Linked DNA regions of Homo sapiens. The protein of the gene in region 1 purifies or fractionates together with the protein of each later gene. This does not show direct contact. Each region holds a gene or a part of one and is shown on either strand. Other genes may lie near its edges. The genes, in order: CELF5, CASC3, PUM1, ELAVL2, MSI1, PUM2 and PAIP2B.

Evidence for each region.
Region 2: the proteins of CELF5 (region 1) and CASC3 purify together in Homo sapiens (affinity purification with mass spectrometry; 2 studies listed by BioGRID and IntAct, with this or other methods). This does not show direct contact.
Region 3: the proteins of CELF5 (region 1) and PUM1 purify together in Homo sapiens (affinity purification with mass spectrometry; 2 studies listed by BioGRID and IntAct, with this or other methods). This does not show direct contact.
Region 4: the proteins of CELF5 (region 1) and ELAVL2 purify together in Homo sapiens (affinity purification with mass spectrometry; one large-scale study listed by BioGRID and IntAct). This does not show direct contact.
Region 5: the proteins of CELF5 (region 1) and MSI1 purify together in Homo sapiens (affinity purification with mass spectrometry; one large-scale study listed by BioGRID and IntAct). This does not show direct contact.
Region 6: the proteins of CELF5 (region 1) and PUM2 purify together in Homo sapiens (affinity purification with mass spectrometry; 2 studies listed by BioGRID and IntAct, with this or other methods). This does not show direct contact.
Region 7: the proteins of CELF5 (region 1) and PAIP2B purify together in Homo sapiens (affinity purification with mass spectrometry; 2 studies listed by BioGRID and IntAct, with this or other methods). This does not show direct contact.

What each region holds. Positions count from the first base shown.
Region 1 is NC_000019.10:3,283,661-3,287,160, reverse strand, and holds part of CELF5 (CUGBP Elav-like family member 5), read right to left. Parts: intron 2,260-3,500; coding exon 2,197-2,259; intron 1,220-2,196; coding exon 1,136-1,219; intron 1-1,135. UniProt on the Homo sapiens protein: RNA-binding protein implicated in the regulation of pre-mRNA alternative splicing. Mediates exon inclusion and/or exclusion in pre-mRNA that are subject to tissue-specific and developmentally regulated alternative splicing.
Region 2 is NC_000017.11:40,161,037-40,164,536, reverse strand, and holds part of CASC3 (protein CASC3), read right to left. Parts: intron 2,785-3,500; coding exon 2,626-2,784; intron 2,605-2,625; exon of another isoform or gene 2,536-2,604; coding exon 2,384-2,535; intron 1,813-2,383; coding exon 1,636-1,812; intron 1,057-1,635; coding exon 371-1,056; intron 1-370. UniProt on the Homo sapiens protein: Required for pre-mRNA splicing as component of the spliceosome. Core component of the splicing-dependent multiprotein exon junction complex (EJC) deposited at splice junctions on mRNAs.
Region 3 is NC_000001.11:30,964,718-30,968,217, forward strand, and holds part of PUM1 (pumilio homolog 1), read right to left. Parts: exon of another isoform or gene 3,446-3,500; intron 2,594-3,445; coding exon 2,450-2,593; intron 1,562-2,449; coding exon 1,265-1,561; intron 194-1,264; coding exon 1-193. UniProt on the Homo sapiens protein: Sequence-specific RNA-binding protein that acts as a post-transcriptional repressor by binding the 3'-UTR of mRNA targets.
Region 4 is NC_000009.12:23,760,241-23,763,740, reverse strand, and holds part of ELAVL2 (ELAV-like protein 2), read left to right. Parts: intron 1-1,491; coding exon of another isoform or gene 1,492-1,506; coding exon 1,507-1,735; intron 1,736-3,500.
Region 5 is NC_000012.12:120,345,165-120,348,664, forward strand, and holds part of MSI1 (RNA-binding protein Musashi homolog 1), read right to left. Parts: intron 2,351-3,500; coding exon 2,282-2,350; intron 1,159-2,281; coding exon 971-1,158; intron 469-970; coding exon 427-468; 3' UTR 406-426; intron 1-405. UniProt on the Homo sapiens protein: RNA binding protein that regulates the expression of target mRNAs at the translation level. Regulates expression of the NOTCH1 antagonist NUMB.
Region 6 is NC_000002.12:20,340,845-20,344,344, forward strand, and holds part of PUM2 (pumilio homolog 2), read right to left. Parts: intron 1-3,500. UniProt on the Homo sapiens protein: Sequence-specific RNA-binding protein that acts as a post-transcriptional repressor by binding the 3'-UTR of mRNA targets.
Region 7 is NC_000002.12:71,196,104-71,199,603, reverse strand, and holds part of PAIP2B (polyadenylate-binding protein-interacting protein 2B), read left to right. Parts: intron 1-3,500. UniProt on the Homo sapiens protein: Inhibits translation of capped and polyadenylated mRNAs by displacing PABPC1 from the poly(A) tail.

The DNA.
Region 1 (3,500 bases):
TGCTGTATAGTGTTCCATCGTGCAGCTCCATCCTAATTTATTTATCCATTTACCTGCTGATGAACACTTGGGTTGTTACCAGCTTGGGATTTTTTTCTTTTCTTTTCTTTTTTTTTTTTTTTTTTTGAGACGGAGTCTTGCTCTGTCGCCCAGGCTGGAGTGCAGTGGTGCGATCTCGGCTCACTGCAAGCTCCGCCTCCTGGGTTCATGCCATTCTCCTGCCTCAGCCTCCCGAGTAGCTGGGACCACAGGCGCCCGCCACCACACCCAGCTAATTTTTTCTATTTTTTAGTAGAGACAGGGTTTCCCCGTGTTAGCCAGGATGGTCTCGATCTCCTGACCTTGTGATCCGCCCGCCTCGGCCTCCCAAAGTGCTGGGATTACAGGCGTGAGCCACCGTGCCCGGCCTTTTTTTTTTTTTTTTTTTTTGAGATGGAGTCTTGCTCTCTCACCCAGGCTGGAGTCCAGTGGGGAGATAGTAGCTCACTGAAGCCTTGACCTCCTGGGCTCAGTGATCCTCCTGCTCCAGCCTCCTGAGTAGCTGGGACTACAGGTGCACACCACTACACCTGGCCAATTTTTAATTTTTTTGTAGACATGGGGTCTTGCTAAGCCAGGCTGGTCTTGGACTCCTGGGCTCAAGTGATCCTCCCACCTCGGCCCCCAAAACGCTATGTAATTACAGGCGGGATCTACCGCACATGGCAAGAACTGTATGGATTTGAACCCTGACTGTCAGACTCCAGAATCGAATCCCTCCCTCCTTCGACAGCCTTGGCTTTACTGGGGAGGCCTCATTACCTGATACCTCATCGTGCCATGCCCCAGCCTCAAAAAGGGTTTCCTTTCCAAAAAATCCAGAGAATCACTCTTGGTTCTGGAGAGGGCTGGTAGGAAGTCACTGCTATTCCTACGGGGTCGGGGCGAGCATGGTTCTCTTTTCGGAGGAGGAAACAGAGAGGGAGATTCCCAGGGGTCAGCGGCTGCACCGGGACTCAACTCTGGCCTGTCCAGCCCCCAGGCCGCACTCTCAGCCCCGCGGGTCCCAGAGGCCCGGGCCAGACACGGAGCCTGCAGGTGGACAGGGCGGGCAGAGGGCGGGGCTGGCGCCCAGGGGAGGTTGCGGCCGCCTCACCTTCTCGCTGCTGCTGCTGCAGGAGGGGCGGCGGCTGGGGGACGCTGTGCGCGATGGGCGTGATGGCCGCGGTGGGGTACATGGCTGCGGAGACCGGAGCGAGACACAGGGCGAGGAGGGGCGTGAGGCCACGTGGGCGGCCTGGGCCGCTGGGCGGGGAGGGGGCGGGGCCATAAGAGGGTGGGGCCAAGGCAGGAGTGGGTGTGATCATGGCCTTTGTGGGGAGGGTTTGGGGGCGGGGCCAGGCCAGAGGGCGGGGCCAAGATCACAGACGAAACGGGGAGGGGCTATTGCCTGAGGGGCGGGGCCATGGTGGAGGGCAGGGCCAATACCGAGACGGGGCGGGGAAGGGGGGGTGGGGGCGGACCCCATGGCGTGAGGGGAGGGGTATAGGGGTTGGGCCACAGTAGAGGGCGGGGCCAAGGCTACAGGACAGTCCAGAGTGGGCGGGACCATTGCTTGAGGGGTGGGGTCACAGTGGAGGGCGGGGGCAAGACTGGGATGAAGGGCATGAGTGGGGCGGGGCCGTGACTTGATGGAGGGCTATGTGGGCAGGACCATGAGTTAAGGGGCGGGGCCGCAGCAGAGGGCGGGGTCACAGCCAGGCCTTAAGAAGTAGAGCCAGAGGTAGGGGCGGGGCTTTATCAGAGAGGCGTGGTCAGAGTAAAGGCAGGAAGTGAGGGGCGGGGCTAGGAGCTGCAGGAGGGAGGGTAAGGGGCAGGGCCGAGAGCTGGGGTTGGGTCAGAGCTAGAGACGTGGTCAAGGGGAATTCCCTCTCCCCAACACAGAACATGAGAGGGTAAGGCCATGGGTAAGCGCTGTCCTTAAAGGACAAGGGAAGGTCCTGTTTGCGGGTATAGGTGGTGGTGGGGTGGGACCAGTAACAGGGCCCGGGGTTGAATACAGGACAAGGGGCTAAGGGTGGGCCCTGAGGGGCGGGGCCAGAGGTAGGAGGCGCGGCTAGGCACAGAAGAACGACACGTCCGGGGCGGGCCCTGGGGGCGGGGCCCTAGGCGGGGGCGGGGCCAGGGCCCAGCGCGGGCACGCGGGCTGCCTCCTACCTGTGTACTGCTGGACTCCGGAGAAGGCAGGATGCAGTGTCTCGGCCACAGTCGGGCTCTGAGCTGCGGGCAGACAGAGGGGCTGAGTGGGGCGGGAGCAGCAGAAGTCTTCCATCCACCCCCGATCCTTAAGAGCCGCAAGGACAGCAACAAACACCCCGCCCAGCTTCTCCTCTGTGCTAAACCCTCTGTAGGACCAGGAAGCTGAGGCCGAGGAAGGTGAAGCCACTTGCACAGGGCCACTCAGATAGCAAATGGCAGAAGCTGAACTGGAATCCGGGTTTCTCGGACTCCAGAGAGAGATCACCATCGTCCCCATCTCCCTCTCCCTATCCCGACCCGGTTGCCTCCCAAGGGGGACCCTTCACTCCTCTCTACTCCCTGGATTCACCAGGACTTCAGCCTCCACCTCAAATCACCACCTGCCCCCATCCCCTGCCCCGTCTCCCTCTCCACATGAGTTTCCTCATCAGACACCCTGTAGCTCCCCCATCTAGCTGTAGCCTTCCTGCTACCGCTAGGGAAAGGGGTAGGGGAGGGAAGAAGTTGTCCAGGCCACCAAAGCTGATGATTCTGGGGAAAAATTCAGCCAAACAATTCTGCCCGAATGGAGAGTGTGCTGGAGGGCAGGGGATAGTGGTGGTGACTGTGACTTCAAAGGGGTGGCAGGAAGGAGTTCACTTTGTGGGCAAGAAGCAGTTCTGTATCTTCACTGTGGGAGATCCACAAGTCTGCATCTGTGACAAAATGGCAATTAACCGCCCCTGCACACACACACACACACGTGCACAGAGTGCATACAAAAACTCGTGAAATCAGCTGGGTGTGGTGGCTCACACTTGTGATCCCAACACTTTGGGAGGCCGAGGAAGGAGGATCGCTTGAGCCCAGGAGTTTCGAGACCAGCTTGGGCAACATAGCAAGACCCTCATTTCTTAAAAAATAAAATAAAATCGAAAATTAGCCAAGCATAATGGCACGTGCCTGTAGTCCCAGTGACTTGGGAGGCTGAGGTGAGAGGTGAGAGGATCGCTTCAGCCCAGGAGTTCGAGAGTTCAAGGCTGCAGCGAGCTATGATCACGCCACTGCACTCCAGCCTGGGCGACAGAGTGAGACTCTGTCGCTAAATAAATAAATGGTGAAATTTGAATACCGTCTGGAGTTGAATTAATTGTATGGTGCCAGTGTTAGTTTCCTGGGTTTGACAGTGACCTATGATTAGATAAGCTGCTGGCATCAGGGAAGCTGTGTGAAGGGTACCTGGGACTGCTCTGTGGTATTTTGGTAACTCCCTGTGAACCTCC
Region 2 (3,500 bases), on another chromosome or scaffold:
GGTGGACATTACAGTGAGCCGAGATCGTGCCACTGCATCTAGCTTAGGCAACAGAGCAAGACTCCATCTCAAAACAAATAAATAAATAAAAATACAAAAAAAAAAATTAGCTGGGCGTGGTGGTGTGCGCCTGTAACCCCAGCTACTCAGGAGGCTGAGGCAGGAGAATCACTTGAACCTGGGAGGCGAAGGTTGCAGTGAGCCAAAATCGCGCCACTGCACTCCAGCCTGGGCAAAAGAGTGAGACTCTGTCTCAAAAAAAAAGAAGTAGACATTTGTCAGACACCACCTTCCTGAGACAGAAGTCCCATGCCCCTAAACCTGATGATGCAAAGGGGAAAAAGCTAGCCACCAATCCTATGATACCTACCTCGAAGTTCCCGTGGTTGCAGGAAAGAAGGCTGCCCCGGACTCCAATTCTGTTCTGCTATATTTAGTTGTGCCACATCTTGCTCAAGTCCACTTGTACTAGAATCCACCGGAGCTTCCCAGGTCCCAGTCTTAGTAGGTGGAGTTGGGGTGGTTTCTGGGACTGGAGGTGCTGGAATCAGTCCTTCAGGAGGAGGGGGCACCTCCTCTGCAAGCTTGACTGCATCTCCAACTTTGGTTCGAGTTCTTCTTGCCCGGGAATAGGATTTCTTCTCAATGGGCCTATCAGGGGGTGGTGGTGCAGCATCAGGAGCAGCAGCTGGTGGCTCTGAGGCTGCCTCTTCCTTCTCAGGACTGCCAAGCACTGGAGCATCTGCTTCTGGAGATGGATCCCTCACAGAAGTCTGCTCTAGGCGCCGTGACCGGTAACTAATCTCATGCTTAACAGTCTCACCAGACCGGCCACCATGCTGCCCACCAGCTTCCACAGGCCTAAAACCAGCACGACCTTCCTTGAAGCCCCCAGATCGAGAATAATTCCTGGGTGCAGACATACGGCCGGTACCTGCAGCATTCCTGTTAATAAATGTCCTTGGTGGTAGGGTGCCCCCAAGACCCTGGTGGCGATGAGACTTGTTTAGCCGCTCACCGTTCCAGTTTGGATCTCTTTGTGGAGGACTCCCATATCTACAAAAAATGGAATGAAGAAACTGTTAGGAAATTAACAAAAGGAGGCTACGCGCGGTGGCTCAGGCCTGTAATCCCAGCACTTTGGGAGATCGAGACGGGCAGATCACTTGAGGCCAGGAGTTCAAGACCAGCCTGGCCAACATAGCGAAACCTCATTTCTACTAAAAATACAAAAATTAGCCGATCGCGATAGTACGCGCCTGTAATCCTGGCTACTCAGGAGGCTGAAGCAGGAGAATCACTTCAACCCAAGAGGTGGAGGTTGCAGTGAGCCGAGAACATGCCATTGCACTCCAGCCTAGGCAACACAGCGAGACTCTGTCTTAAATAAATAAATAAAAAGAAAAGCAAAGAGAATTCTTTCTAAAAGATATCAAGAGTCTACACTCTATTTTTTTTTTCCTTTTTTTCTTTTTTTTTTTGGAGACAGGGTCTCACTATGTTCCCCAGGCTGGTCTTGAACTCCTGGCCTCAAGCAATCCTCCTGCCTCAGCCTCCCAAAGTGCCGGGATTCCAGGTGTAAGCCACCGTAAGCCACCATACCCAGCCTGGTCTTATGTTCTAAAATGTCCTCACCGGGGTTTCCGGATTCTTCGAGGTTTGATGTCATCAGGATTATGAGCTGAGCGAATGTCATAACCATAAAGAGCAATGAGCTCCTGTCGGGACTTTGGGGCCTGCTCATCTTCCCGGAACTTGTCATGCTCCCAGCGACCCTCATCCTTCCATAGCTTTCGCTGACGCCCCTTGGGTCTGGATAAAATGAAGGAAAAGTGTCTTGGGTCAGCAGAATTCTCCAAGTAGAGATGTTCTTGAACAAAATGGGTCAGGGAGGCAGGGGGACAATAGGAACTTTACGTAGTCTCCTCATCATCCCAAAGAGATTATAAAAAACAGGCCTCCCCAAAGCAAGCGTGAATCACAGAACCTCAGGGCCTGCTGGGCTCAAATATAACAGACACAGAAATGAGAAAAAGACTTCATTTCATGCCATTCAGTACCTTTGAAACATCTCCTTTCTCCTAAAAGGCAACCTATGCAAGTATTTCACTTCTCAGACGCCTTACACCTCAGACTAAGAAAAGCAAAAGTATAATAATTAAGAGAAGATGAGTTCTGGAAACAAACTGTCCTAGGTCTGTATCTTAGCTGCCTCACCAAGAGTTACCAAATATTCTAAGCCTACTTTCCTCATTTGTACGATAAGGATAATCATAATACTTATCTTAAAATGCTGTAATAAATGAAATACAGGCAAATCGAAGTACCTGGCCTACATGTGTAAAATACATGTTAGACAGCAGCAGCAGCAAGTGGCTTTTACCTGACTTCCTCCTCCTGAGTTTGCCCTCGAAGATCATGCTCAAAGAAGAGCCCTTTCCGAGGTATGTATGCTGGATTCTTCCGATCTTCATCATCATCCAAATGCTTAGGGCCCTTTTTACCCACTTTGTTCTCCACAGGCTCTGTGCTCTCCTAGAGGACAGATAAAGGGATCCTTACTCTTCCAAGCCTCAAGAATCTCTATTCCAGCCTCTAAAATGGAGGACTGTGGAATGTACTAACCTGTCCGTCCCCACTTTGCCTCTCTCCAGTCACAGTGCTTTTGGTGTCAGGCTTTTCTTCTCCCTTCTCTTCTTTTGTTGAAGAATTAACAGCATCATTAGCTTCTGATTTCAGCTCCACTTTGGAGTTTTCCTCTTCACTGTATTCACCTTCTTCACCCTGAAAAAAGTTTCCCTGTCAGCGATGCATATAAGATCTGAACGGTGCATTTTAATTCCCACCCCTGCCCCCAACCCCAAAACAAAGTCTCTGTCACCCAGGCTGGAATACAGTGGCACAATCTCAGCTCACTGTAACCTCTGCCTCCAGGGGTCAAGCAATTCTCCTGCCTCAGCCTCCTAAATAGCTGGGATTATAGGCGCCCACTACCGCGCCTGGCTAATTTTTGTATGTTTAGTAGAGACCAGGTTTCACCATGTTGGCCAGGCTGGTCTTGAACTCCTGATTTCGTGATCTGCCTGCCTTGGCCGCCCAAAGTGCTGGGTTTATAGGCGTGAGCCACCGTGCCTGGCTGCATTTCAATTTTCTACTCTTTAGGAATACATTTATCAATAAATTTTTAGTACAACATAGAACTGAAAAGCAAACAAATCAATATTCTTACCCATATTTCTAGAAAATAAAGATCCTATTTTGGCCTGGCACAGTGGCTCACGCCTGTAATCACATTTTGGGAGGCCAATGCAGGCAGATCACCTGCGGTCAGGAGTGTGAGACCAACCTGGCCAGCATGGCAAAACCCCATCTCTACTAGAAATATAAGAATTAGCCGCACTTGGTGGTAGGCACCTGTAATCCCAGCTGCTCGGGAGGCTGAGGCAGGAAAATCGTTTGAACCAGGGAGGCAGAGCTTGCAGTGAGCAGAGACTGCGCCA
Region 3 (3,500 bases), on another chromosome or scaffold:
GGTGGTGTCTGTGAATGTCCTGGTCCCTGACTAGGGAGAGGCATGCCCACGGGTCCAGGAGAGGAGGAAAAGCTAAGGCCGTTATAAAAACTGTGTCCAATGGGGGTCAAGCTGCTCGATGTCCTCTTATAAAGGTCACTGCTGCCAGTCAGGGAGTCACGGCGGGAGCCACTGCCAGTGTTGGAGTTTGCAACTAAAATGGAATTAAAACAATGCAGATAAGAACAGGCCTGTTCTTCGAAGAACAAGCCCAGTGACCTGTTCCTAACACTTTGATCCAGACTCCTTACCACCGCAAATTTGTCAGCAGAGACAGCCTAACTGTTAATGTAGCAGTACTAGGGGCAGATAAGTAATAAAGAGGACATGGCTCAGGTTAACATGACCATCAAACATATGCCAAATTTACCTTCCTATGGTGTCGTATATTATAGGATAAGGGAGGGTTAAAAAGCTCTGACGGCCACATGAACTATGGAAAAGGTGGAAGAAAATGGACTAGAAGAATGCCTTTCATCAATTGAAAAGGTTCAAGTAGAAAAATGGGATACAGAAAAAAGATTTGTAAATGGGGTACTGCCCCACTACACAAGACTTCTATATGAAAGCCTGTTTTCTCAGTGGGTTCAATCGAGAGTTAATGCTGCCCTCAATTCCAATTAAGATACTTTCTTTCACACATGCCCTTCTATTTAGGGATCACTTTTGTTTGTTTGTTTTTTATAATCTCTGCAATTATCCCATTATTCACCATACTACACTCCTGCTTTTTTCATCAAAACATTAAAAATATCTTGGTCTAATATCCTTCCTCCTAATTTTCCACATGTCTACCTTAAATTCTACTCAAAAGACTGAAGAAAACTTGTAACTCTTTAAGGCCTGCAGGCCAAGAACTCGGCTCAGTCTCAATTGTGGAGTATTTCAGCTCTGCTATCTTTAGTAAGTCCTCCTCCCTCAGTTTTTGATATCAATTTCTACAGTTCCCTCAATATTTTTCCCAAATACAGCAAAAATCTTCCCTAGATTTCAAATCCCTGAAAGAAACTGATTAAGTAAGTAGCCACATGAGCATGGATTGAAATAGGTCCCATCTGTATAACTTGATTTCAATAGTCTATCATCTCACAGATTATGTGGGATGGCTGGATTCCCACAAGGCTTGGTCCAGATCTGCCTGTGGTTCCATGCATTGCCAGTATTCCAGAAGGATTGTAAAAATAATTAAAATTCAGTCTTAAGAGCATATCAGTCTAATTTCTACCTGCTGTTCCAAACCCTCCAAGGGCGGATCCCAGGGTGGCGCCGAGAGAACTGCTACTTCCGAATCCCAAGGATGTGTTGGCAGGCTGGGCAGAGCCCTGGGAGAAGAGGGAGCTGCTCTGTGAATTGCTGTTCAGAGAGTTGTTGCCGTAGAAAGAACTGGATGCCAGGTTGTTATTGGGCTGCTGCTGGGGCTGGGGCTGAGGCTGCTGTGTTCCTAAAGGGCGAAATGGTCCATTTGTTGTTCCAGCAAGACCACCAGCTGCTCCATTTGCTGAAGCTGCGGCTGCTGCAACAGCTATGAAGAAGAAAGCAAACCGTTTGGCTATGAAAGGGACTGGCCACATTTCCAAACTACATTTTTATCTTTTTTCAAAAAATCTTTTAATGCTGCCTATCTTTTCAAAACAGACACAAACCATACAAATCTGTCTTTGATCCCTTCATATGAAGCTTCTATTTTCTGTTTCTACTTTCAATTTGAACTCAAAATACCACTAGAACAAGTTCACTATGCTGGTTGCTTTTAAGAGTATACAGATTAAAAGGGGTATAAACATCAAATGTATCCATTAAATACAACTACTTCCTAAAATCTTAAATTCCATAAATATCTATGTTGAGGGTTTCTTCTAGAACCATGTAATGCACATACACATCCTTCAAATTCCTATTTTAGCACACTGCTGTCTTCTAGATGTTCCTGTTATTGTTCTTAATTAAAAAATAAATAAATATAAACACTTAAAGTAAAAAACTATTACTCCTCCCAACCAAATGTATTATTTTGTCACTTCTCACTACTCTTTCCCACGTCCTCCACTCCTGCCCCTGTGGCAAAAAACAACCCCTCCTCTAAAATTATCTTAAAATAATGACTTGGATTTCTGCCAACAAAGCCATTTTGTGTGAGTAATGCAACTTCTATGTTCTCAGTGGAGCCAGACCTTCAGACCTTGCTTCTAACCAGCTGGCACATGCCACCCCTCCCCCAACCCACCAACCCCCCAACAAAAAGGAGAATCCACTAAGGTCACTTATTGCTTCTGATCTCTTTTTGAAACATTACAGGGTAGAACCGATATACTGAGAATTGCCAAAAGTTTATTTCAACATACTTTAAGAATCTCACTATCAGTCGCCACTTTTAGATCTCTGGCAGGAGTCCACTCAGATGTGCGCTCACCTGCTTGTGCAGCTGAGGAACTAATGATGACTGGGGCAGGAGCTACAAGTCGAACAGGAGCTCCAAGACCATTTCTCGCGCCTGCATTCACTACAAGGGCACCAGTTTGGTCATAGTAAGCAGCAGGAGCCAACACCGGATAACCTAGGAATATCAAGCCAACAAAGAAATGTATATGTTAAACAAACAAGTATCTCCTGGGCACCAACATATTGTCAATAATCACAAACTCAGCTTTGAGGTTGAATTGGCCAGATTTATATACTGGCTCCATCACTTAAATAGTTGAATAAACAGAGGCTACAAATGATTATAAAAATCATAGTACTTTCATACTACATAATAATTTAAGAACAAATATCCTGCAAAATAGCAGGAAAAACCTAGATAGGCTTTAAATAACATGATCTTTCAATATTATGTGAGATAGAATCTCCAAATCCCAGTTTAAGCCATATGAAAAACTGCAGGTGACTTCCTAAGAACACACAAAGGCTCAGTAACTAAAAAACAAATGAAACAGGTTAAAGTTATTTATTGAATTCATAAATGGCTCAGTTAAATTGGCTATGCTCTATGATCAGTAAAGGTCCATAAAAATACGCTGACATCTCTCAAAGACTTGTTTCACATGTAGAACATCAAAGTACATCTAATCCCATGCAAAGCACCAAACCAGCTGACAGTGAACCAAAAACAACATATATTCAAGATGTATCTATATAAACATGTATCTCAGAGGTAGACAGCTAAAAAGGACCCCTACTATTGGTTTAAGAGAAACCTTAAAAACGTAAGGGATGACCCTATCAAGGTATACCAGAAATTTCTCACTAATCATGCTGTTCAAAAACATCAACATAAAGACTAAGCCTTGTAAACTAGCTTGGCCACTCCATCTATCCCTGATTCTGAAACAGAAAACAGATAATCCACCAAGGAAAAACCACATATTCCAAGCTGCATGGACATTTAGATACCTCCAATATGACTTAAGACTGGCTCAGAACAATGCTCTCATCAGTGAACTATAGTCTAAGTGAGGGCAAGT
Region 4 (3,500 bases), on another chromosome or scaffold:
GACCAGTCTCAATATGTCCAACACTGCCTTCTTTTGTAAACATCTCCTGGCAGTAGAGATTTCTTCCTATATGTTTATCTGCTAATGTGCCCTTTTATTTTTCTTAGGCAATATGTGTTTTAAAAGACAGTTTTTTCTCTTTCCTTGTAACCCTCTTTCCCTTTACTTTGCTTTTTTTCTTTGCCTCAAGTTCTTTGCCTTTTCTATGTTAAAGCTTCCCTAAAACTAGCATCCCGTCAATTCAGAATTGTCAGTTTTGAGAAGCAGTTCTTTGTGGAGGTGAGAGATGTATGCAATATGAAGGATAATCCTTTCAGTGATGCGTTGATTTTTAGATTCCACCACAGTCTTGGCTGTCCAAAGATAGGTAGTTAGTGGAAAATGATTTTGGAAAATTTGGGGCTGTGGTTTGTGACTCTTTTGCATAGGATTGGTTTTAGGAAACTAGATTTAATACTGCTTAATAAGTGATTTGTAGAGTAGCCTGAACAGTTTGAGGCCATTTTCCCCAATTCTGTTCTTTATCTGGTGTTTGGAGTTTATAGATACCCTATTACTTGCATTTTCAACAGGCTTATGTGCTCAGACGAGAATTCCTTGGGCTGGTCTGTTTGCAAAAGTTGATATATTTACATTGTTGTTTTCATTGACTGGATAGGTTTTCTTTTTTCTCATTAAAAAGCAGAGTCAAGGAGAAACACCATATCGAAGTGTTTGGGGATTTTATTTTGATGTTGTAGATCAGTCACCTTGTTGGTAATTTTTAGCTGCCAAGGTTGACAGGAGTGTCCTATTAGATTCTACCAGTTAGACAAAGTATTCATAGCTCATTCCCAAGTTACCTTACAGTTAGTTCCTTTCCACTCCCTAAAATATAGCATCTGTTTTTTTCTTACCAATGGTAGAGATAAGATATTGTCCATCAAAAACGTTTTCAATATGTAACCAAAACAGTACATGTTGACAAATTTATATTTTTAAAAGTACTCTTGCTCTTTGATTTTTAAGTTAATGGCTATCTGTCAGTTTTAGAATATTGAACCTCTTAGGATAACTGAAAATCTCTTCAGAGTTAGGTAGGTCATTTTTTTGTTCATTTTTGTAGCATGTTAAGCACTTTTATTTTCTAGTATGATTTTTAGTTAGGGTTCAATTCTGTGCCCTTTGGTACTTGATTTTCTCATCTGTGGACACTGCAGGTGAGTAAGGATATGTGAATAGACCCAGAATGTGATTCTAGAAAATGTTTAAGATTTAAATTGTGCTTATATGCATGTATGGAATATGTATGTGAAAATATAGTTGTAACCTTAAGATGAATAGGTTAATATGAAGTGAAAATTAGTGTAGGTATTACACTTTTTGTTGAAGCATTGTTGTAATTTCATTAGAACGACTTGTGTTTAGTGACAAGTGTTTAAATTCTTGGATGGAGTCTCTAATAGGTTGTGAAATATGAATTCTGACATTTCTTGTTTTCTCTGTTTTTAGCAGGTAATTGCTGCCATGGAAACACAACTGTCTAATGGGCCAACTTGCAATAACACAGCCAATGGTCCAACCACCATAAACAACAACTGTTCGTCACCAGTTGACTCTGGGAACACAGAAGACAGCAAGACCAACTTAATAGTCAACTACCTTCCTCAGAACATGACACAGGAGGAACTAAAGAGTCTCTTTGGGAGCATTGGTGAAATAGAGTCCTGTAAGCTTGTAAGAGACAAAATAACAGGTAAGCAGTTTTATGTAGATGATTTATATTTAACGGATCGTGTCTCAAGATAGGAGAAAATAATAAGATTACTGCTTGTAAATAATTCACTGCTGCAATTTTACATATCTAGATTTTCTCTCTGTTATTACATCAGCAATATGAAACTTAGTTTAAAATTTTCTTTTTAAATCATAAACTATTTTGGGGGCAGTATATATTTTAACTGGACTTTAATGTACTCTGATCTGGACAGGATCTTTGGAAAATCTTCTAAAAGTATATGTATCTGGGATAGCCAGTGTCATGTTAACTTTTATCTTTTAGTACCCTGAGTGTATTTAAGTTAGCATTTCAACAGTGAGATACAATATGTGTTTGGGAGAGGGGAAAAAATCTTAAAATGTGTTTTCCTTATGTTAATATAATCATTTTGCTTATATATGATAAAATAAATGGTAATGTTCACATTGTCAGTGTATAAACATTTTCACTGATATAATACCAAGCGTGATGAGATCTTATGTTCCGTTCCTTAACAAGGAAAGGACATGGTATATGATTGTCCTTCTTGTTATAAAGATAAAGCCTTAATTATAGTACATTTTGAATATTAGGTGAAAATCTCCTTAGTATTTTTTAAGATTTGACTAAATTTTTAGAGTAAACCAAAACCTAATTTAAAGAGCACGTTCTTGGGATAGAAGGGTTAATGCTTCCTGCAGGAGTTGTTTTCAAACACTAAAAATACATGAAGTTAGACATACATATGAAGTTAAACACTAAAAATATACGAAGGTAGACAGACTCTGTGGACTTTTCATGTTAATTAAATTTGATTGATAGTGTATACCAAATTGCTTTACAAAGCTTATAACCAAAAATATAAAATGGAATATTTGAAATGAGTAAAAGATACTTAAAGGCAGTGTGAAGAATGAGACCAGGAGTCTGAACTCTCACCTAGTCATGTGACATTGGATAAGTCAGCCCTAGACTTCTGGTTTCCATTGGCAAAATAAGGTAAAAGGCAGAGAAAAAGGGGGTAACACTGGGCCATTTCTAAGTTCACTTTTGACTTTTTCATACATGGGACTTTGAGCTATTCCGTTAATCGTTAGGGCTCATTCTCTCCAAGATCTGCAAGTGAGTTCTAGAGCCAGCCCCTGGACTTGGCTCATAATCATATTTCCTCAAGCTACAGATTGAGATTCACAGAGACAACTTACTGAAATCAAGTTAAAAAGCTAAGTACAAACTGATTGTCATTGATCCATAGCAAACGGCCATTATATTTTAATTATGTTGCTTAAATGTTCACTATGATATTAGGAAGGTGGTTCTTATGTTTCTGAACACTGATAATCAGATGGATGAGATTTTTCAATTTCTTTTCCAAAATGAGTGTGATAAGCATATGTGAAATTTATAGTGTTTTTAATAAGTTGAAAAAGGTGAAGAACAAAAGGCTGCTCTTACGTCTCTGTCGTGATGTTTTTAAACATCTTTTTAACATGTTTTAAACATGTTATCTTTTGTTTTTAAAGTAAAACAACACCCCTGACATGTGGATTTTGCAACCTTTTTAATATAAAAGATAAAAATATGATAAATGACTTGAGGGCTATGACACAAATGATGCAATTTCTGATTGCTTAGTAGAGCTCCCCTTACTATTAAAAAGAAAGATGCATGAACAGAGCACAAAAGTCATGTTTTGTTATGAAACTGTTACGAAATGATACATTTTATCATTTTATAAGATGAAAATATTAGACAAATCATA
Region 5 (3,500 bases), on another chromosome or scaffold:
AACACAGTGAAACCCTGTCTCTACAAAAAAAGTAAAAAAATTAGCCAGGCATGGTGGCAGGTGCTTGCAGTCCCAGCTACTCGGGAGGAGTCTGAGGTGGGAGGATCCCTTGAGCCCAGGAGGTGTGGGTGACAGAACGATATCTTGTCTCAAAAATAATAATAATAATAATCTTTGCCAACCTGATAGGTGGGATGTGAAGCCTTACTGTTGCTTTGATTTCTGTGTTTAAATGGAGTAGGGTGAGCAGCTTTTCATCTTTATTGACCACAGCTGGTATAAAGATCTGTCTCCCCTGGGACTGTGGTTCTTGAGGGCAGGGATGGGGTCTGTGTCCCAGATTCGATGGCCCAGGACAGGCTTCCCCAGTGCCACCCCACCACCTGCCCACCCCCACATCCTCACCTCCTGCCACCGTCCCCTGCTTCAGTGGTACCCATTGGTGAAGGCTGTGGCAATCAAAGGGCCCTGAAAAGGAAAGAATTTGACTCCTAGATTCCTGGGAAATAGAGGAAGATCAGGGGCTCCTTCTCTCTCTGCAGGACATCTGAAGTGAGGCGCTGACCTCTCTCTACCTGTCCGGATCGCCCCCCTACTGCAGGTCTGCCTACCCGGATCACCCCCCACTGCAGGTCTGCTCAAAGATTCTCCAACAGAGGGCCAGGGAATCTGCACAAACCGTACCCTGGATAAAACCAGGGCACCCCTGGAATCAAACCTCCATGTGAGCAGAGATGCCATGTGTCTCATTTGCACCTAGAGCCCACTATGCCTGGCATTCAGAGGCGATAACTAAGTGCCCACTGAATGAATGATAACCCCCACAACTCTTCCTTAGTGATCTTTCTCCATTCATCCTCCCTCACCCTCCTTTTGCCCCCAGAGACAAAGAAGTTCTCTCCCTTCCCCAACTTGGGGGTCTCTCAAGGTGTGGGGGGTGAGGTGGGGGCCGCTAGGCCTGGCCACTCACCCCAAGACTGTGGCCGAAGCCGGTGCTGGGGGCAGGGCTGGCGGCGCTGATGTAACTGCTGACCCCCGAGTCCTGGTTGGCCGCCCCGTAGAGCTCGGCCATGGGGCCGGGGCTGGTGGTCCCCAGGAAGCCCCCTGTGCGGCTGGGAGTCGAACCTGGAGGGGGAGCCATCGTCCAGGGGTGAGAGCCTGGCAACCCAGAAAGAAGACGGTGATAGCCCTGGTGCCCTCTGCCACCCCACGGCACCCCCTCAAGCCTGTCCCACCCACCCTAACCTGGACCCCCACATTTCAGAAAGTCCTGTGGGCCCACCTCCTGGAGATCTCCCCATGCCCATCCACCCAGTCACCCCTAGCCCTGACCCCCATCATCTCGTCTGACCACTCAGCAGCCTCACCTCCTGAGCCCCTTCCCAACCTCTCCCCACCTAGCAGCTGAATGCATGTTCTAAACCCTGACCCGCGTCCCTCTGCTACTTGCAATTTCCACTGTCTCCCCACCACCCGGGCTCCTCCTGCCTCCGTTCTCCACTCCCCACTTCCGCACTTTCCCCACCCACTGGCCTCCAAGCCTTTGCATATGCTATTCCCTCAACCAGAAACACTTTTCCTCCTCTTTGCCTTTGAATGCAAAGTTAAGAGGCCCTTCCTCTTGGAAGCCTTCCCTCGCCTTTCCTAGAGGCCCCAGCTGGGAGCTCCTCTGGTACTGGACTCCCCCTAGTGCAGCAGCATCAGCCATCAGCATTATTGCCTTTTTAATACCTGATGCCACCACCAGGCTGCAAGCCCTGGAAGGCAGAGACCCTGTCAGTCTTTTTTTTTTTTCTTTTGAGACAGACGGAGTCTCACTCTGTTGCCCAGGCTGGAGTGCAGTGACGTGATCTCAGCTCACTGCAACCTCCGCCTCCCGGGTTCAAGCGATTCTCCTGCCTTGGCCTCCCGAGTAGCTGGGATTACAGGCGCGCACCACCACGCCCAGCTAATTTTTGTATTTTTAGTAGAGACGGGGTCTCACCATGTTGGCCAGGCTGCTCTGGAACTCCTGACCTCAGGTGATCTGCCCACCTTGGCCTCCCAAAGTGCCAGGATTATAGGCAGGAGCCACCGCGCCCAGCCGACCCTGTCAGTCTTGCTGAGGGCTGGCTCGCCCATGCTGGCACGATGCCCAGCACAGAGCAGGTAATCAGGTGATACTTGAGTGAATGAACAAGTGTCCCTCTGCAAAGGGGTGGCAGTGGCCTTCTCCCCTCCCCTGGACTTCTCTGCTCCCTGTGCTCCCTCATCTCTCTTCCTGCACCTCAGAAGAGCTCACCTGTCCCTCGAACCACAGCCGCTGCCGCCGCTGCCGCCGCCATTGGTCCGTAGGCAGTGAGAGGAATGGCTGAAAGGAAAGGGATGGGCACATCAGCATGGCGGTGAGGGGCAGAGATGGGTGAAGGAGGCCCCTACCTTTTAGGCAGAGCCTGTCCAGCCTGGCCCTACCTCAGAGGGTTCCATGTAGCCCCAGGGTCAAGGCAGAAAAGGCTACCTTGGGCCACACCATCTGTGTCCTGACCTGTGGCATGGATGGAAAAAGGTGGGAGAGAGGACAGCTTCCCAGTGAGTAGCTGAGCCTCAATTTCTCCCCTGGTCTGGGGGGACATGCTTGAATAACCCAAAGCTCATGGAGGGTGGAGGCAGGGCACCCAACCCTGAGAAGCTGCGAAGGTTGCCCGCAGCTGCCCCCTTCTCCAGGATGCCCTTGGCAAAACAGGGATCACTTGGCCCAGAGGTGCCTGGGAGCTCACGTCCTTCTTCGCAGCCCACGACACCTGGCGATAGACAGACATGGGACAGGCCCCCAGGCCTGCTGCCCCCAGGTAGAGCGCTCTAGGGGTCAGGCTGAGGCTGGGCTCACACCGAGGCCATAGCGTTGCACCGCACCTTCTGCTGCCTGTCCTGCTCCCCTCGCCCCTGTCTCCTGAGAGCACCCTAAGGGCCTCCCTGACCACCCAGAAATGACCACTGCCTCCCCCAAATCCCCCCAGCCTCTTTGTCTGCCATCTCCTCTTCAGACACAGGCACCTATCCCCTTGTTTGCTGTCTGCCATCATCGCCACCTCTGCAGCACCTAGCACCTTGCCTTGTACACGGCAGGTGCTTAATACCTGCTGAAAGAGTAGAAAGGGAATCTGCTTAAAACACCCAGTGGCTTGAATGGCTTGAGCCTGGGGCTCCCTGGGGCTGAGAGATGAGCACCTCCTACTGTGAATCTTTCCTAAAAACTTCATACAGTGGGCTCCTTCTCACTCAGATGCCACCTCCTCTAAGAAGCTTTCCCTGAATACCCCCACTCAGGCGGCCCCTTGTCCCCAACCATAACGCCTTAGCACATTTCCCTGCTTTAATTTCCTCATGGAACTTCTCACCCTCCAAAAATATCTTTTTTTTTTTAAATTAATTTTTTTGTAAAGATAGGGTCTTGGAAAGGCTGGGTGCGGTGGCTCATGCCTGTGATCCCAGCACTTTGGGAGGCCGAGGCGGGCGGATCA
Region 6 (3,500 bases), on another chromosome or scaffold:
AACTAGCTAAATGAACTCGATCTCATTTGTCCATTTGCAAATGGAAACAACAATGCCTCCCTCATAGGGCTGTTGCAAAGATTAAGTGAGGTAATAAATGAAATTGAAATGCAAGTGCTTTCTAGAGTATTAATGACACATCAAACTGAACTTTTTGTTTATTTGTTTAAAAATCAATATAAAATTCTTTGGACTGGGCACAGTGGCTCATGCCTATAATCCCAACACTTTGGTTGGCCAAGGCAGGAGGATTACTTGAGTCCAGGAGTTCAAGACCAGCGTAGGCAACATAGCAGGGGCCACAGCTCTTACCTGCGCTCTGCACAGCCCCCCTCTCCCTGCCCCGCAAAAAAAGAAAATATTTTGACCCAGAAGTTTCTCTTTTGGAAATTTACCTTAAACAAACAGCACCAACACAAATGAATTAACTATATAAAGATATTTACTGCAGCACCACTTATATGGTGGTACAAAATTAAAAAAATAAGCCAAACTCAACAACAGAAAAAAGTTAAAACAATGAGCCAGTACAAAAATTACAAGTAATTAAAGTTACATGTAAAATGTCCATGATATTAAGTAAAAATACAAAGTTGCCTAATGTGTATCATATGATCCAATTTTTGTTCAAAAAAGGAGGGGGGCAATGTATGACTACATATGTTTGTGGGAAGTACGAAAAAATAAACATCTCACTCAACTTTGGTAAAGAAGGTACTGTTGGCTTTATCTTTGTATTTCTTCATATTGTAAGACTTACTGAGGTTAGCAAAATAAATTTCTTAATGTCCTATATAAATATAGCTTAACTGCATTACAGTTTGGAAACTATCAAAGTACAAAAGTTATTGTGTTACTTTTTGTTCCTATTAGTACTAGGCTGAAAGTCCAACAAATGAAGACTTGTCTCACATGGCTATCTTAGTAATTTTCAATTGTTACATGCTATCAATTAGAATTAATACCTCACCAAGGAAAAACAACTTAAGAAATGTTAACTAGAGGCCTAGCATGGTTGCTCACGCCTGTAATCCCAGCACTTTGGGAGGCTGAGACAGGTGGATCACTTGCGGTCATGAGTTCGAGACCAGGGTGGCCAACATGGTGAAAGGCCGTCTCTACTAAAATATAAAAATTAGCCAGGTGTGGTGGCAGGCGCCTGTGATCCCAGCTACTAGGGAGGCTGAGGCAGGAGAATCGCTTAAACCCAGGAGGTGGTGGTTGCATGGAGCGGAGATTGCGCCACTACACTCCAGCCTGGGCAACAGAGTGAGACTCTGTCTCAAAAAAAAAAAAAAAAGAAAGAAAAAGAAATGTTAACTAAATTGTAACAGAGAACTAAAGGAAGAAATCTGAATGCATGGTCTGAGACAACTGGAGAAAAATAACAATTTTAAGAAGCAGACTTTAATGCAGTATATTTGGAATTTTCCTAAGTGTGCTCCTTATTCACCAACTCAGTGTTCTCAGAAATAAGTGATCCCTTGTCCAATACATTTCAGGTATGCTGCTCAGTAGCACCCACTTGCTCCTTTGCAAGCTCTGAGTACATGTTCAATCTTTCCTTCCTTCTGTTACTGGCTCCAAGAAATTCTACAATTAAAACTGTTTAACCTTAACCCAGTATTACCATAACTTTTCTGTAAATGTTAACACAAATACATTTTATGTAGTGTTTCTAGTCATTTCCAAGACAACTTAAAGAAAAATGAATGTGAGGTATGAAATATATTCAATTTTCTCATAAGACTGGGTAGAATAGAGATTTAATTTTTGTCTAGGAAAACCCTAACTTACGGTTAAAAGCTTTAAAATATATTTAGCTTATTATGACTTATGAATAGTCTAAGAAATATATATGAATTGTATAAATCTTTGAAGTAAAAGGAATCATTTAGGTGATTAGCATGAATTGCGGTTTTTAAAGTTCCTCAAGTAATCAAGAACAAGCTTTGAATTGGTTAACTTTAAAGTGAGATGAAATGACCAAGCCAATTTCCTAAAGATACTTAAGTTTTAAAAAGGCAAGTTATTACATCAAAAACACCACCAAACATCTAGGTAGAAATGTATGGAGAGAAACCAAATCTGTGTTAGTTTCAAGGATTAAGTATTAAATCATATATATATTTATAGACAGGGTCTTACTCTGTCACCCAGGCTAGAGTGCGGTGGTGCCTTCACAGCCTCCAAACCTGGGCTCAAGCAATCCTCCTGCCTCAACCTCTAGGGTTACAGTAGTGCCACACTATGCCCAGCTAAATTATATATTTTTAAAAGAGTCTGTGTTTAAAAAAAAATTGAGTATAATTTAAATAAACTTACTTTATTCACTTAAGCAAATGTTTGGAAGACGGCAGACTATCTTAAAGGAAATATACAATAAAACAAACAAAAAAATTAGCTGGGTGTACTGGTACATGCCTGTGGTCCCAGCTACTCAAGAGGCTGAGGTGGAAGGATCACTAGAGCGAGGGAGGTGAAGGCTGCAGTGAGTCATGTTCACACCACTCCACTCCAGCCTGGGTGACACCACTGCACTCCAGCCTGGATGACAGAGACCCTGCCTCAAATTAAAAAAAAGTTTCTAAATAAAAATAACTAAGTAATTTATTAAATAAAATAGCAAATAAACTAGTAAGTTTAAAGCTAACCAGTTGTGCTAGTAATTGTACAAACAGTAGGTATGTACAATTCTCATTAGCCAGAGAAAGAAATCATACCAAACCCTTGGATGCAACCTTATTCCTAACACTAAGCTTTAAAAGAAATTTCTGTTGGGCATGGTGGCTTGGACCTATAATCCCAGCACTTTAGGAGGCCAAGACAGGAGGATTGCTTTAGTCCAGGAATTCGAGACCACATGGGGCAACAAATTCGAGACTAGCCAAGGCAACATAGTGAGACCTTGTCTCTACAAATAATAACAAAATAACTAGTTGGGTATGATGTTGTGCGCCTGTAATGCCAGCTCCTCAGGAGGCTGAAGTCAGAGAACTGCTTGAGACTGGGCAGTTGAGGCTGCAGTGAGCAGTGACTGCACCACTGCACTCCAGCCCCAGCAACACGATGAGACACCCGCCCTCATCCCAGTATCAGAGAAAAAAAAAGCAATTTCTTAGATGGAGCATTATTGAGGCAACAGAGTTGTAATAGAAAATATCTTCAACATTACCATTAACAGATACAAGGTTTCATAGTATCATTTTACTTTATTTTATTTTACTTTATTTTATTTTTTGAGACAGGGCCTCACTCTGTTGCCCATGCTGCAGTGCAGTGGCTCGATCTTGGCTCACTGCAATCTCTACCTCTTGGGATCAAGAGATCCTCGCGCCTCAGCCTCCCAGGTAGCTGGGACTACAGACGCGAGCCACCATGCCCAGCTAATTTTTGCATTTCTTATTGAGATGGGGTTTCACCACGTTGCCCAGGCTGGTCTCAAATGCCTGAGCTCAAGCAGTCCACCTGCCACGGCCTCCCAAAGCGTTAGGCGCCCA
Region 7 (3,500 bases), on another chromosome or scaffold:
CAGAGTAAGACTCCGTCTCAAAAAAAAAAAAAGGACGCAGTTGGGTTAAGGGGGAAAAAAAGGGAGAAGTGTAATTATATGCAACTTGGAACATACACTCTCACTGGCTATTCAGGCCACAGAAAAAGATGGAAAATGCTTAGTGAATTGTAAAATCTTATGGGTCATTTCTAACTAGATTTTTTTTTTTTTTTTACTCTAAGCTTCTGTCATTTTCCCGTTGGGTGTCTATTAAGTAAAAATCAGGGTAGATATATTCTGAAATGTCAACAATATTCATTATGTGTGAGTGTTGAGATTAAGGGGGCTTTTTTTCCCTTCCAATTTGGTTTTCTTAGTTCTGATTTCCCAACTCATATGCAAAGAAAATGGATTACTTCCACAATAAGGGAAACAGGTTCACATGTAAAGAACCTAAAAGAGAAACATCTGAATTAAAATGCTTCAGAAAAGGAAAACAAAATAATGAAGATAGAAAATATCAGGAAATTTCAAACACAAAGCAATATAAGTACTGGATAAAGTGGAAATTGAAGGGAAAAAACAGTTCTCTCAAACCCTGCTACTGCTTTATCAACTAAGTTGATTATGTAATATTCTAAATCCTTCGTTGTCATTTCCACAGTGTTCAGAATATGAATAGGAACAAAGATCATCAAGATTCAGGAGGATGGCAAAACCCAGTCCAAGGAAAATAAAAATCATAGTAAAGTGATACAGGAGCTGAAAGACAAAATAGGCAGTATAAAAAAAGAACCTAACAGGTTTGACAGAGCTGAATAACACAAGAATTTCACAATGCAATCACAAGTATTAACAGCAGAATAAACCAAGCTGAGGAAAGAATCTCAGAACTTGAAGACTGGTTCTCTAAAATAAGACAGGCCAGGCATGGTGGCTCACACCTGTAATCCCAGGACTTTGGGAGGCTGAGGCGGGGATCACCTAAGGTCAGGAGTCAGAGACCAGCCTGGCCAACATGATGAAACCCCATCTCTACTAAAAATACAAAAATTAGCGGCTGGGCGCGGTGGCTCACGCCTGTAATCCCAGCACTTTGGGAGGCCGAGGTGGGCGGATCACGAGGTCAGGAGATCGAGACCATCCTGGCTAACACGGTGAAACCCCGTCTCTACTAAAAATACAAAAAATTAGCCGGGCGTGGTAGCGGGCGCCTGTAGTCCCAGCTACTCGGGAGGCTGAGGCAGGAGAATGGTGTGAACCCAGGAGGCGGAGCTTGCAGTGAGCCGAGATCGCGCCACTGCACTCCAGCCTGGGCGACAGAGCGAGACTCTGTCTCAAAAAAAAAAAAAAAAAATTAGCTGGGCCTGGTGGCAGGCACCTGTATCCCAGCTACTCGGGAGGCTGAGGCAGGAGAATCTCTTGAATCTGGGAAGTGGAGGTTGCAGTGAGCTGAGATCACATCACTGCACTCTAACCTGGGCAACAAGTGTGAAACTGCATCTCAAAAAAATTAAATAAGACAGTCAAAAATAAAGCAAGAAGAATAGAAAGGAATGAACAAAAACCTCCAAGAAGTATGGGATTATGTAAAGAGGACAAATCTATGTATCACTGGCATCCCTGAAAGGGAGGGGAACAAAGTAAATAACTTGAAAGATATATTTCAGGATTGATATGGTTTGGCTCTGTGTCACCACCCAAATCTCATCTTGTAGCTCCCATAATTCCCATGTGTTGTGGGAGGGACCTGGTGGGAGATGACTGAATTATGAGGGTGAGTCTTTCCTTGCTGTTCTCATGATAGTGAATTGGTCTCACGAGATTTGATGGTTTTAAAAACGGGAGTTTTCCTGCACAAGCTCTCTCTCTTTGCTTGCCGCCATCCATGTAAGATGTGACTTGCTCCTCCTTACCTTTTACCTTCTGCCATAATTGTGAGGCCTCCCCAGCCACATGAAACTATAAGTTCAGTAAACCTCCTTCTTTTTTAAATTGCCCAGTCTTGGATATGTCTTTATCAGCAGTGTGAAAACAGACTAATACAAGGATACCATCCATGAAAACTTCCCCAACCATGTTAGAGAGTCCAACAGTCAAATTCAGAAAATACAGAGAACTCCTGCAAGATTCCACACAAGAAGATCATTCCCAAGACACATAATCATCAGACTTTCCAAGGTCAAAATGAAAGAATATTAAAGACAGCTAGAGAGAAAGGGTAGGTCACCTACAAAGAGATCCCTATCAGGCTAACAGCAGACCTCTTGGCTGAAACCCTATAAGCCAGAAGAGACTGGGGGACTATATTTAACATTCTTAGAGTAAAAAAATCTTCAACCAAGAATTTATATCCAGCCAAACTAAGTTTCTTAAATGAAGGAAAAATAAGATCCTTTTCAGATAAGCAAATGTTGAGGGACTTCATTACTACTAAACTTGCCTTACAGGAGACCTTGAAAAGAGCACTAAATATAGAAAGGAAAGACCACTACCAGCTAATACAAAAACCCACTTAACCACACAGACCAGTGTCACTGTAAAACAACCACACAAACAGGCCAACATAATAACCAGCAAACAGCACAATGACAGGATCAAATCCACACATATCAATACCAACATTGAATGTAAATGAGCTAAATGCCTCACTTAAAAGGCACAGAGTGGCAAGCTGGGTAAAAAAGCAAGACCCAATAGCATGCTGTCTTCAAGAAACCCATCTCACACATAATGACACTCATAGGCTCAAAATAAAGGGATGGAGAGAAATCTACCAAGCAAATGGAAAACAGAAAAAAGCAGGGGTTGCAATCCTAATTTCAGACAAAACAGATTTTAAACCAACAAAGATAAAAAAAGACAAGGGAAGGACATTACATAATGGTAAAGGGTTCAATTCAGCAAGAAGACCTAACTTTCCTAAATACATATGCACACAACATAGGAGCACCCAGATTCATAAAGCAAGTTCTTTATGAATCTGGGTGCAAAAAGACATAGACAGCCACATAATATTAATAATGTGAGACTTCTATACTCCACTGACAATATTAGATCATTGAAGCAGAAAATTAACTAAGATATACAGGACCTAAATTCACCATTGGAACAAATGGGTCTGCTAGACCTTTACAGAAGTCTCCACCCAAAAACAACAGAGTGTACATTAATCTCATTGCCACATGGTACACACTTTAAAATTGACCACATAATTGGACATAAAACAATCCTCAACAAGTGTAAAAGAACCGAAATCATACCAAACACACTCTTGGACCACAGCACAATAAAAATAGAAGTCAACACAATGAAAATAAAACCATACAATTACATGGAAATTAGACAACATACTCCTGAATGACTTTCAGGTAAATAATGAAATTGAGGCAGAAATCAAGTTATTTGAAAATAAGGAGAACAAAGATACAACATACCAGAATCTCTGGAACATAGCTAAGGCAGTGTTAAGAGGGAAATTCATAGCACTAAATGCCCACCTCACAAAGTGATAAAAGATCTCAAATTAACAACCTAAC